Regions from separate parts of the Homo sapiens genome. Here region 1 is linked to region 2. Evidence: fine-mapped expression QTL. A gene starts in region 2. The other region holds a variant in brackets. All regions are shown on one strand. Distances are from middle to middle. Region 1 holds the start of IL2RA-AS1 (IL2RA antisense RNA 1). Region 2 holds the start of IL15RA (interleukin 15 receptor subunit alpha).

Evidence for each region. PIP is the estimated chance that this variant, and not a neighbour inherited with it, causes the effect.
Region 1: its variant is the best candidate, but not a certain one, in a credible set for the expression of IL15RA in tibial nerve (GTEx, PIP 0.53).

Annotation. Positions count from the first base shown.
Region 1 is chr10:6,034,591-6,039,590 of GRCh38, forward strand. The region is part of intron 1 of IL2RA (interleukin 2 receptor subunit alpha); the gene reads right to left. It overlaps IL2RA-AS1 (IL2RA antisense RNA 1), which reads left to right and starts at 820. Exons shown (of 2, transcript XR_001747349.2): 1 at 820-1,472; 2 at 1,595-1,832. RefSeq lists a silencer at 3,915-3,974. The variant G/A (reference allele first, on the strand shown) is at 1,986.
Region 2 is chr10:5,975,010-5,980,508 of GRCh38, forward strand. IL15RA (interleukin 15 receptor subunit alpha) reads right to left here and starts at 2,534. Exons shown (of 7, transcript NM_002189.4): 1 at 2,396-2,534. The coding sequence starts at 2,483. RefSeq lists enhancers at 788-1,057, 1,188-1,267 and silencers at 2,158-2,537, 2,628-3,297.

The DNA.
Region 1 (5,000 bases), 59 kb after region 2:
TTTCCCTATATTATCATTCTTTTATTTTTTAAGACAGCATACAACTGTCCTCATTCTCTAGTTTTACTCACTAACAATGCCAAAAATTACTTCTCAAAATTCAGCTAACAAGGGCTTTTCTCTGCCTTTACACTTCCTCCTGTCTTTCCAGACCCACTTCCTGCTTCTCCCAATGGGTCTTCTCAACATAAATCATTCTCTCCCGGAATATTTTCCAATTCCTAGCTCTACGCACTCCCCCAGCTCACACCAAGGGACCTGGGAGCTTGGGAGGCAGACAGAATTTTCCTTAGAAGAGGGGAAGGGGAATATTTTTCTCCCTGTAATTTTAAAGTATTGGCACGATTCTGGATGTAGACATCACCTTCTTTTCTGAGATTATTTGAAGTGTCTGGTGCCTATGGACTGTGGGAAAATTTGAGATGATCAATTCGGGAGTTGGAGGTGGGGGTGTAGGGTGGTAAACACTCAAGGCTTAGAAATTGGGGCTCCCCACCCTGCACTAGGGTCTCACACAAAGGGGTTGGCACAGGGCTGAGAAGCAGTGGGGCTCCTGTCCACCCTGCCCAGCACCTACTCCCACCAGGCAACTGAGTGGTATTTAGTCTGCAAGACTAGCCCAGAAACTTGAATGGGACCCTGAGAGAGCCAGGGGTTCCTTGGGCCCCCGCTAGGGGACTTTCTGTTTGCCCTGGGTCTCCCTGTGTGGGCAGGGATGGAGAGTGAGGGCCTGCCTTCATGGCAGTAGGCTCTGAGTGGGTGACTGGCGCCAGGCCAAGTTCTAGGTGGGCTTCCCAAAGCCACATTCAGGCAGGACGGAGCTGCTCTTGCACACGGTTTCGTGGGCTGGATTTTCTCTGTTGCACACATGCTTAGTATCTGTCTCTCCCTTTGTTCCTGAGTGGTGGGCCGCACATGAGGCTCTGAGCAGGCTATATCTCTATTCTGGCAATAAAAGTACTCTGGACACTGTTAAGGTGAGAAAAGAAAAGAAATCGGGGCTCCCAGGAGGAGAATCCTGAACCACGGGCTCTGCGGTGATGTGGCCTTCCTCTTTAGTTTTTGTGCCTTTTATGTGGGCAGAGGGAAAAAGAGACAGCCAGCAGTGATCATTAATCCTGAAAATGCCGAGGGCTTTGGCCTGGGACCCACACCAAGACAGAGTCAAACCGAGTTCTTCTAGTGTTGAGCGTGTTTCACATCTTCCGTTGGAGTTTGCTGTGGATGCTCATTAGACAGACATGGGCAGAATCCCACTTGTTCCTCGTCCTTTTCCACCTCACCTCCATCATTGTGGCTGAAATACACGATCATGGGTGTATCTTTCCTTGTGGATTTGTTGCCTCTAGGAGTTCTGTATGCAGCTGAAGGGTAACATCCCTTGGGAGCTTTTGCCTTGTCTGGCTGACGCCTTGGCAATCGCAAGTGACAGTGACGGAGAGCCACCTCCTCTGGAATGCATCATGGAACAGGTCTGGGAGAACAGAGGGTGCAGGTGAAGGGCCCTCGACAATGCTTCTCTTTGCATTGTGGGGTTTCCCCTTCAATGGATTGCTAAAGATTCAACTTCTCTGTCTCTTTGTGTGCCCGCTAGAAAGGGAAAAGCCAGGCATTTGTAGTCCTCCTGCCACAGATGACCAGAATGACCTCACCCAGGACAAACGGCGACAGATTTAGGAATTCAAGCCAGCTTTTCTGACTCCCAGGCACCTGCTCTCTCCTTTCGAGTGTTCGACTCCACTCTCAGTCACTCGTCACTCTTCCCAGAAGGACAAATGTGCAGCTTCTATGTCTTGGATTTCAAATAAAAGACGAGGAACTTGGTGAAATGAGGTGGTCTTTGCCTTCCGCGTCACTCTCTGCTCCTCCTGGCAAGAGGCCCCATTTTTCTTGCCACTGAGGTTAAGTGAAAACAAAACAAAACAAACAAACAAAAAAGAGGCCCCATTCACAGTAAAGATAAACAGCAGCCTGGGCAGGCCAGC[G/A]GCTCTTCCCTGACGTGGAATTATGAGCCCTCTTTCTTCGATTTTGCCACATACCCGCAGCTGCACTCCCATAATCTGAAAGCTGTCCCTTTAATTTTTACCACTTCATTATTAGAATTGGAGTAGAATGAAAATTAATTTTTCCCTGAGCTATTTTTGTGTCCCTTGAGTTAACCAGAAATACCAACCCTGGAAAGAGATGTGGGGGACAGTCATTTTAGAGAGCGGACACCACTGCTGAAGAAGAAGGATATCCCGGTTGGCTGCTCTAGAGCCGGCAGGACGGATGCTGAGGTTGTTCGCAGCAGCGTGTGTGCAGAGCCCCCGGGATCTTGCAGACTGGGATTTGTCAGGGCAGGTGTGGACATTGAGGCTATTTCTAACAAGCTCCTACATGATGCTGGGGCTGCAGAGCCCCAGGCCGCACTTGGAGTATGAGAGTTTCCAGGGAGTGAAGCCCCGGCTGCTCTCTCTGCCCCCTCTCCATCTGCCCCCTGGGTGAGGACAGGACTCCCATCCCTCCAGTGCACAGTGAGTGCTGCTCAATCTGCATCCACAGCGGTTTGTGCCCAGATGCTTCCTCACTCAGCGTCTAACAGGGTGCAGTGGAAACGTCATTGACTGGAGGAAAGGTGTGTGGGTGAGAAACGTTTGTCGGTTGAGTAACTTTTTGTCGTTATTTTTTTTCTCTGATGTTCAAAGTAAGAGAAAACTCATCTGGCCCCTGGAGCCCATGTGAGCAACATGAAAGATAAAGGGAAAAGGGGGCTGATAAAGATGTGGACCGAGTCTGAGATAAGATTCTTTGCCCCTTGGGTGAATCCAGGTGAAGTTGTTTTACTCTTAGCCCAGCCAGCCCTGGATAAAGGCTTCATCCCTCTTCTCTTTCCTGTCCATATATCAGAACTTTAAGCTCTACTTGTACCCAGTGAAGATTAGAATAACGCACGGAGCACAGGAAATGTCTAGGTGATGATTTCACTGAGCTTTACAAGGGACACAGGTACGCATCAAGAGCTTGGGCCACTGGGTAAAGAGGGATCTGGTTCTTGCTCTAACGCGGTTCATCTTCTGTGTCAGAATCAGATAGATTCTGGGTGTCAGAGACCCGAATCTTCCTCTTGTTCCGCTCACTGCCCCCCTGTGGCCCCTTCTCATTTCAAATGCTCTGTCTGTAATATGAAATGAAAAGAATTCCTCCCAGACCCCTAGCCAAATTTCACCTTAAGCTCGTTGACTCCCAGAGGAAATCTCTGTGGGAGACTGGAAAGAGGACGCTGGAGCCAGAGGCTATCTTTGATAGTGAGGTGAGGTTTACTGTTTAATAAGAACTCCAAAGATATGCCTAATATTGAAGGTTGTCTCTCGCTTCCTTGGGAAACCCAAACCAGAAGTTTAGGCCGTATAGAAAGTAAGTGGTTTGGGTGCAAAAGGGATGTAGAACATCCCTTTTAATGGTATCATAGAATATGAGAACTAGAAGAGAGCTCAAAGATCATTTAGGCCAACCTCTACATTTTATAGATAAGAACACTGGGCCTGTGGTCATTCCACAAGTTTGTGGCAAGCCTTGGATTACAACAGATCACCAGGTTCCCTGACTCCTAGTTCAGTGCTTTTCCAACACCCAGAATCATAATCTTCAGGAAGGAGCGTGCTTTTCACCTATCTGTTGAAGGTTATCTCTTACAAAGAGGTGGAGCTATGTCTAAACTATCTGGGTGCTGGGAGGTGTTTGTGTGATGTTGTGGTTTAGTTCAGATTATTATCTTTGAAGAAGTCAGAGGGCCCAGGCCCTCCATTTGGGGTTATCTATATAATAATAACTATGATGTCTGAGCCCTGCCTATGTGCTGCTTCTTTGCATATATTACCTTCAATGCTCACCATGGCTCTGGAAGGTAGATACTGTCATCCCCACTTTAGAAAGCAAGAGATTGAGGTTCAGAGAGATTAAGTAAGTTGGCTAAACCACACAGCTCAAGGTGGTGGGACAGGAGTCACGTGAAAGTCTACTATTGCTGCCCTCATGTCAGCCTTCTAAAAAATCTCACTTTTACTTTCAGGAAATTCTTTCAAATAGCAAACATAAATGCGCACAAAGAAGCAAGGAGGAAGAGGAGGGAACTGTGTAGAAAAGGTTTGTGGAGGCAATTTGTTCTAAGGTTATTTATTATTTGAGAGGAAGGCTATGATATTGGTTAAATCTAGGCTTTGTAAAGTCTGGATTCATGTTAAGATGTTAAAAATTACATCTAAAATGACAGAGTAAAGTGAATAACTTACAAGCTATTGGAAGAAAATAAAATAGGATAAAAACTTACTTAAATCAAAAGAAGGGGGAAATGCATAGAAAGAGAAGGTAAAAAATAAAGAACAAAATAAGACAGTGGAAATTCATCAAACTATATCAGTAATAATTATCAATGTGGATAGATTAACCCTGCAGTTACAGAATGTTGGACTGCATATATTTTTAAAAATATGCAGTTATATGATGTTTATAAGAGACATGCTTAAAGCATAAATGCTCCAAAAGTTTGAAACTAAAAGAATGGACAATTGAATCCAAGGAGTTATATTAACATCAGACTTCAAGGCAGAAGCATTAATAGAAATACAGAAGTCAGTACGTATTGCTAAAGATTCAATTCACCAGGAAAACATAAAAATGCTATATGTGTATGCACTCAAAAACATCACTTCAAAATATACAAATCAAGAATCAGGAAAACATAACACTTACGTACTTCTATGCACCCAATAACATAACTTCAAAATACACAAAGCAAATATTGACAAAACAAGGATAAATTTAGAAATCTACTATCATAATGAGAAATTTTAACAGTGTCTTCCTTTATGATGGATAGGACAGACAGAAAATCAGTAAGAACAATCAAATGTGATAACCACAATTAACAAATTTGATTCCAACAATAGCAGAGCCCACTCTTTTTTCAAGCACACATGGGACATTTACAAGGCAGTAGAGGAGTTGAAGGCAAGTTAGGG
Region 2 (5,499 bases):
ACATTGTTTCAAAAAAAAAAAAATTAAACATACACCTGCCATATAACACAGCCACTCTACTCCCAACCATTCTCTACCCATGAGAAATGAAAACATGTGTCCATACAGAAACCTGTATGTCAGTGTTCATAGCAGCTTTCTTTGTAATAGTCCCAAACTGGAAACAACCCAAATGTCCCTTAACAAGTGAATGGCTAAACAAATGATGGGCTAGCCATGGGTAGAATACTACTACTCAATGGTAGAAACTAATGAACTACTTATACAAATTACAACATGGATAAATTCTCAGGATAATTACTGTCTGTGAAAAAAGCCAAACAAGAAAGAGTTCCTACCGTGTAATTCTATTTATAAAAAATTTTAGAAAGTGCATCAAATTGCCTGGGAGATGGGCGAGGTGGGAGATGAGGACTGTGCAGGGCATGAGGAAGTCTTTGGGAGTGATAGTTGTGTTCACTCTTGGTGGTGGCAGTGGTTTCATGAGTATGTATGCATTTACCTCCAAACTTATCAAAGTGTGCAACTTCAATATATGCAGTTTATTGTCGGTCAATTATACCTCAATAAGGCTGTTAAAGGGAAAAAAAACAACGGCTGGGCAAGCTGGCTCACGCCTGTAATCCCAGCACTTTGGAAGGCCGAGGCGGGCAGATCACAAGGTCAGGAGTGATCACCATGTTGGATCAGCCTGACCAACATGATGAAACCCCGTCTCTATTAAAAACACAAAAGTTACTGGGCGTGGTGGCGATCGCCTGTAATCCCAGCTACTCAGGAGGCTGAGGCAGCAGAATCGCTTGAACCCAGGAGGCGGAGGTTGCAGTGAGCTGAGATCGCGCTACTGCACCCCAGCCGGGGTGACAGAGTGAGACTCCGTCTCAAAAAAGAAAACAAGAAAGAAAGAAAAAGAAAAAGAAAAAACATTGAGAGCTTTGGGAAGGGAAGGTAGCAACATCTTTCTAAGGTCAAAGGGCAAGGCTGTGCAGCTGATGAGATCAGAGATCTCACAGTGGTGCTCCCCTATCCACTCAGTCTTCAAGGAAGACACCTCCTCTCTGCTGGGCTTTGACTAAGGCTGCATTTCACTTTCATATTGTGTAATCCAGCTGCCCCAGTTGCCAGCTATGGGGTCCTGTGACACTGCTAGCCAACTGGGAGGAACCAACCGGTCACCAACTAACTCTGCTTCTCAGATGTGGGGGGAAATCCAAGCATCAGAGTCTCATGAAAACGAAACTTCAAGAAGCCTCGCAGAGCTGGGGTGGGGGTGGCAGAGGGTGGGGGGGCGTTCAGGCCACACCAGGCAGCAGCAACTGTGCGTGGAATGGCTTTGGCCAGGGCCTGGGCAGACTGGCCCGACTGGATGTAAATTATTCAGGGTCTCGCTTAAAAACACACACAGATCATGGCGTTACTAATTCCTATAGAGAGTCCATGGATGGCCTTCAGTGGGGCTTTGACCCCAAAATCATATGCACATTTTGTAACTATGTTCATTCATGCATTTTTCTGGGGGCCGGGGGTTCATAGCTTTCATCAGACCCTCCAAGAGCTCCCTGACTATAAAAAGATAAAGAAGCGCTGACAAGGATAGAGCTAGACCCTGCTACTGTTTTCCTCCTTCCTCTGGCTGCCGGGACAAAACCCCTAGGAATCGCTCATTCCGTCCTCCCTGCCGAGATCAGAGCTCCGCGACCCGCTTTCTTCTCGAATACACCAAGCGATCACAGATCTCTTCCCCCTTTTTCTGCGAGTGTAGACTCCAGGCTGGCCCCCACTCCCCACCCCCATCCGGTCCCGACCGCCTCTGCTGGTTTCCTGATCGCTTAAGAATTGGAAGTTGTTTCCAGGTCCCCAGGTGTGCAACTTGCCCGACGCGTTTCCCCCTGGGACACAGCTCCTCCCCACCCTCCCAGCTCCCACTGACATAATTTACTTTTGCCTGGGAGTCGGGAGGAGTAGTTTCTCCCGGACCCCTCCGAGGACCGCGTGCTATGCAACACCCGCCCTGCAGTCCAGGCGCCTGGGAGAAGCGCACTCGCCCGTGTCTCCAAACTGCTGGACGCCGCCGGCTCCGCGCTCCCGTGGCCAAAACGGGCTTCTCAGAACTGCTCCTGACCTCGGCCTCGGAGACCCCAGCCAGGCCGCCCGCTCCCTTACGTGGGTGACCCGGGCGCAGCGGCGGCGCTCTCCCTGCGACCCCGGCTCCCGGCACGTGTCCCTCCTGCCCGGCGCCGCGTCCCCTCCCCGGCCTGGGCCTGCGCGCACCGCGCTCCCGAGGGCACCGACGCCCCCGCACGGCCCGGGGAGATGGGGCGCCCGGTTCCCTCCAGCTCCACGTCCCGGCCCCCTTCCAAGTCCCGCCCGGGCGCCCCTGCTCCCAGCTCCCTACCCCGCGTCGCCGGCGGCCGGAGCAGCAGCAGCAGTAGCAGCGCCGGGAGACCGAGGGTCCGGCAGCCGCGCGCCCGCCGCGGGGCCATGGCGGCAGCTCCACAGGACACCGCTGGACTCCCCGGGCGAGCGCTGCCCAGGCCGGGGGGAGGTGGCGAGCGCTGCTCTGGGACCTGCCGCCCCGCCAGTCGCATTCGCTTTCGCTTTTGCTTTGGCCCCCGAGGGCTCGGAGAGGTGCAAAGCGGTGACAGATCCGTGACTCAGCGTCCCCACCCCTGCTGGGGAAGGAGCCCCGCCGGCCGCCGCGGCACCGCACAGCCACCCCTGTCCCCGGGACGCATGGGCCGTGCCCGGTGGGGACCCAGGACCTTACCCACGCAAGCCCGGGAGCCTCCCGGTCCTCCGCGCTCGTCGTGCTCTGGGACCTCCAGTGTGCACTCGGTCCGGTGTCCCCACTGCGAAGAGAGTGGGCAAAGTCATCGGAGAGCAGACTCTCTCCAGCCCTCTCTGCGGCTCGGATCCACTTGACCTCGCCCGGCGCTGGTCGCCTCCAGCTGCTCCGCCTTCGGCTTTCCTGGTCTCCCTCCGCGGCCCTGCGCTCGGTTGTGAGCGGCCGGCCTGGGTGAGTGCCCGCGGAGGTGTCGCCGCGGTGCGGAGGCGCGGGCACCTGCCTGGTGCGCTCTGGCCCGGGCGGAGCGCAGCCCCCGCCACCTGCTGGCTCCCGCGGCCCCCGGCGCCCGCTGGGGCCCCAGCTCCGCCACTTCGCCGAATTCCTGCTGCAGCTTTGCTCCCCTAGAAAATGCCTCATCTTAGAAGGAGAGGGGGCGGAGGGGGGAGAAGGGGGAGAGGAGCCACAGTGCTTCACCTCTGAGCCTCGCTTCCTTAGGTTCTTCCAGGCTGCCATCCTCCTCTTTGGCTGGTGGGTTTTTTTCTTTCTTGGGGTCTCAAGTGAAGCCTGAGAACCGGGTCTGTAAGCTCCCAAGTGCAGATTCTCAGGTCTAGCGGTGACATTGGACAGGACGAGACATCTCCAAGCCTCGGTCATTGCCTCTTAAAATCTCACAACGTGTTTATGAGGCTTTTGTGACATACTTGCAAATTCTCTTTGAAAACGAAATAATCTGTACAATAATCCCCCAAGACACAGGTTTACCTTTATAACAAACCTGCACTTATAACCCTGAACTTAAAAGTTAAATAAAAGAATTTAGGGCCGAGCGCGGTGGCCACTCCTGAAATCCAAGCACTTTCGGAGGCCAAGGCAGGTGGATCGCCTGAAGTCAGGAATTCGAGACTAGCCTGGCCAACATGGTGAAACCCCATCTCTACTAAAAATACCAAAATTAGCTGGGCATGGTGGCGGGCGCCTGTAATCCCAGCTATTCAGGAGGCTGAGGCAGGAGAATCACTTGAACCCAGGAGGCTGAGGTTGCAGTGAGCTGAGATCGCACCACTGCACTCCAGCCTGGGCAACACAGCCAGTTCCTGTCTCTTAAATTTAAAAAAAAAAAGTAGAAAGAATAATGAACCTACCATCCGGCAGTGACCACACAAGGTCCATTCTTTTTTTCTAAGCAGGAATAGCCACCCTTACTCCAACTGGGGAAATCCCACATTATTCAATTTCTCTCAATACTTAATAATAAATCTCAAGATGATAAGATCAAATTTAAAAATTAACAATATTCCTTAATATTCTCAAATATATTGAGGGTTTATTGAATGCAGGCTAAGCATAGCATGTATACAATAGAGCATTTTTTATTCTATGGACATTTATGAAGTAGAGATTTCTCCATTATTACAGACTCTTTGTAAAAGTTTTTAATGGCTGCAAATTATCATAGTTTAACATCCCCTCTATTATTTTAATATTAAAGATAACATTGTCATAAATGTCTTTCTACAAAATCTTGTGAATTTAAGATCGCTTAGAATAGATTTCCTACAGTGGAACTATTGAGTCAACTGGTAGGGAATATTTTTAAAGGCTTTTTCTCTTTTAAACAAATATTTCTATCTTGCTTTCCAAAAGTCTTGTATCAATATACCTTCTAACTAGCATTGATTGTGTTAAAGTACCCATTTTACTGCATTCTGACCAAAAGTAAATTTTAAAATTTGAAAATAAAATTGTAAATTTGGTATGCTTAAAGAACTCTATTTCATTACATATATATACGTTGTTAAATAATGTAAATTTCAAATATACTTCGAACTATAGCAATCAATAAATATAGTGGATATCCATGAGCCTACTGCCTCATCCTGTCAAAACTTAATATGTCTGCTCAATGTTTGCTTCAGATATTTTTTGGAATAAAAAAATTACAGATAAAGTTGAAGCCCCTTTGTATTCTTGCATCTTTCTCTTCCTCCGTCTTCCACTTTCTCGCAGGTAAATGTTTCTTGAAACTGGTACTCATCATTCCCAGGCATTCTTAGGCCCCTTTTCCATGTGTATGTCCATGTGCAACGGACAGGATGGCTTACATTTTTAAAAATTCATGTGATTAAGGCTGGGTGTGGTGGCTCATGACTGTAATCCCAGCACTTTGGGAGGCTGAGGTGGGCAGATCACTTGAGGTCAGGAGTTCGAGACCAGCCTGGCCTACATGGTGAAACCCCATCTCTACTAAAAATACAAAAATTAGCAGGGTGTGGTGGCACGCACCTGTAATCTCATCTACTTGGGAGGCTGAGGCATGAGAATCGCTTGAACCTGGGAGGTGGAGGATGCAGTGAGCTGAGATCACACCACTGCACTCTAGCCTGGGCGACAGAAAGAGACTCGGTCTCAAAAAAAAAAAAAAAAAATTCATATGAACAGTACCATACAGATTGAGCACCCCTGATCTCCAAATCCCAAATCCAAAATGGTCCAAAATCCAAAACTTTTTGAGCTCTGACATTACGCCACAAGTGGAAAATTCCACACCTGATCTCGTGGGGTGGGTGGCAATCAAAACACAGGCACATAACACACTGTTTATTCAGCATCCCCAAGGGGAAAAAAGACTCTCCCAGCCGCCTTCAGCTGAGAGATATCTTTTCTGTGCATGCCCAGATTCCCCCATGCAAGCACGCACACAAAAGGTGGTAAAA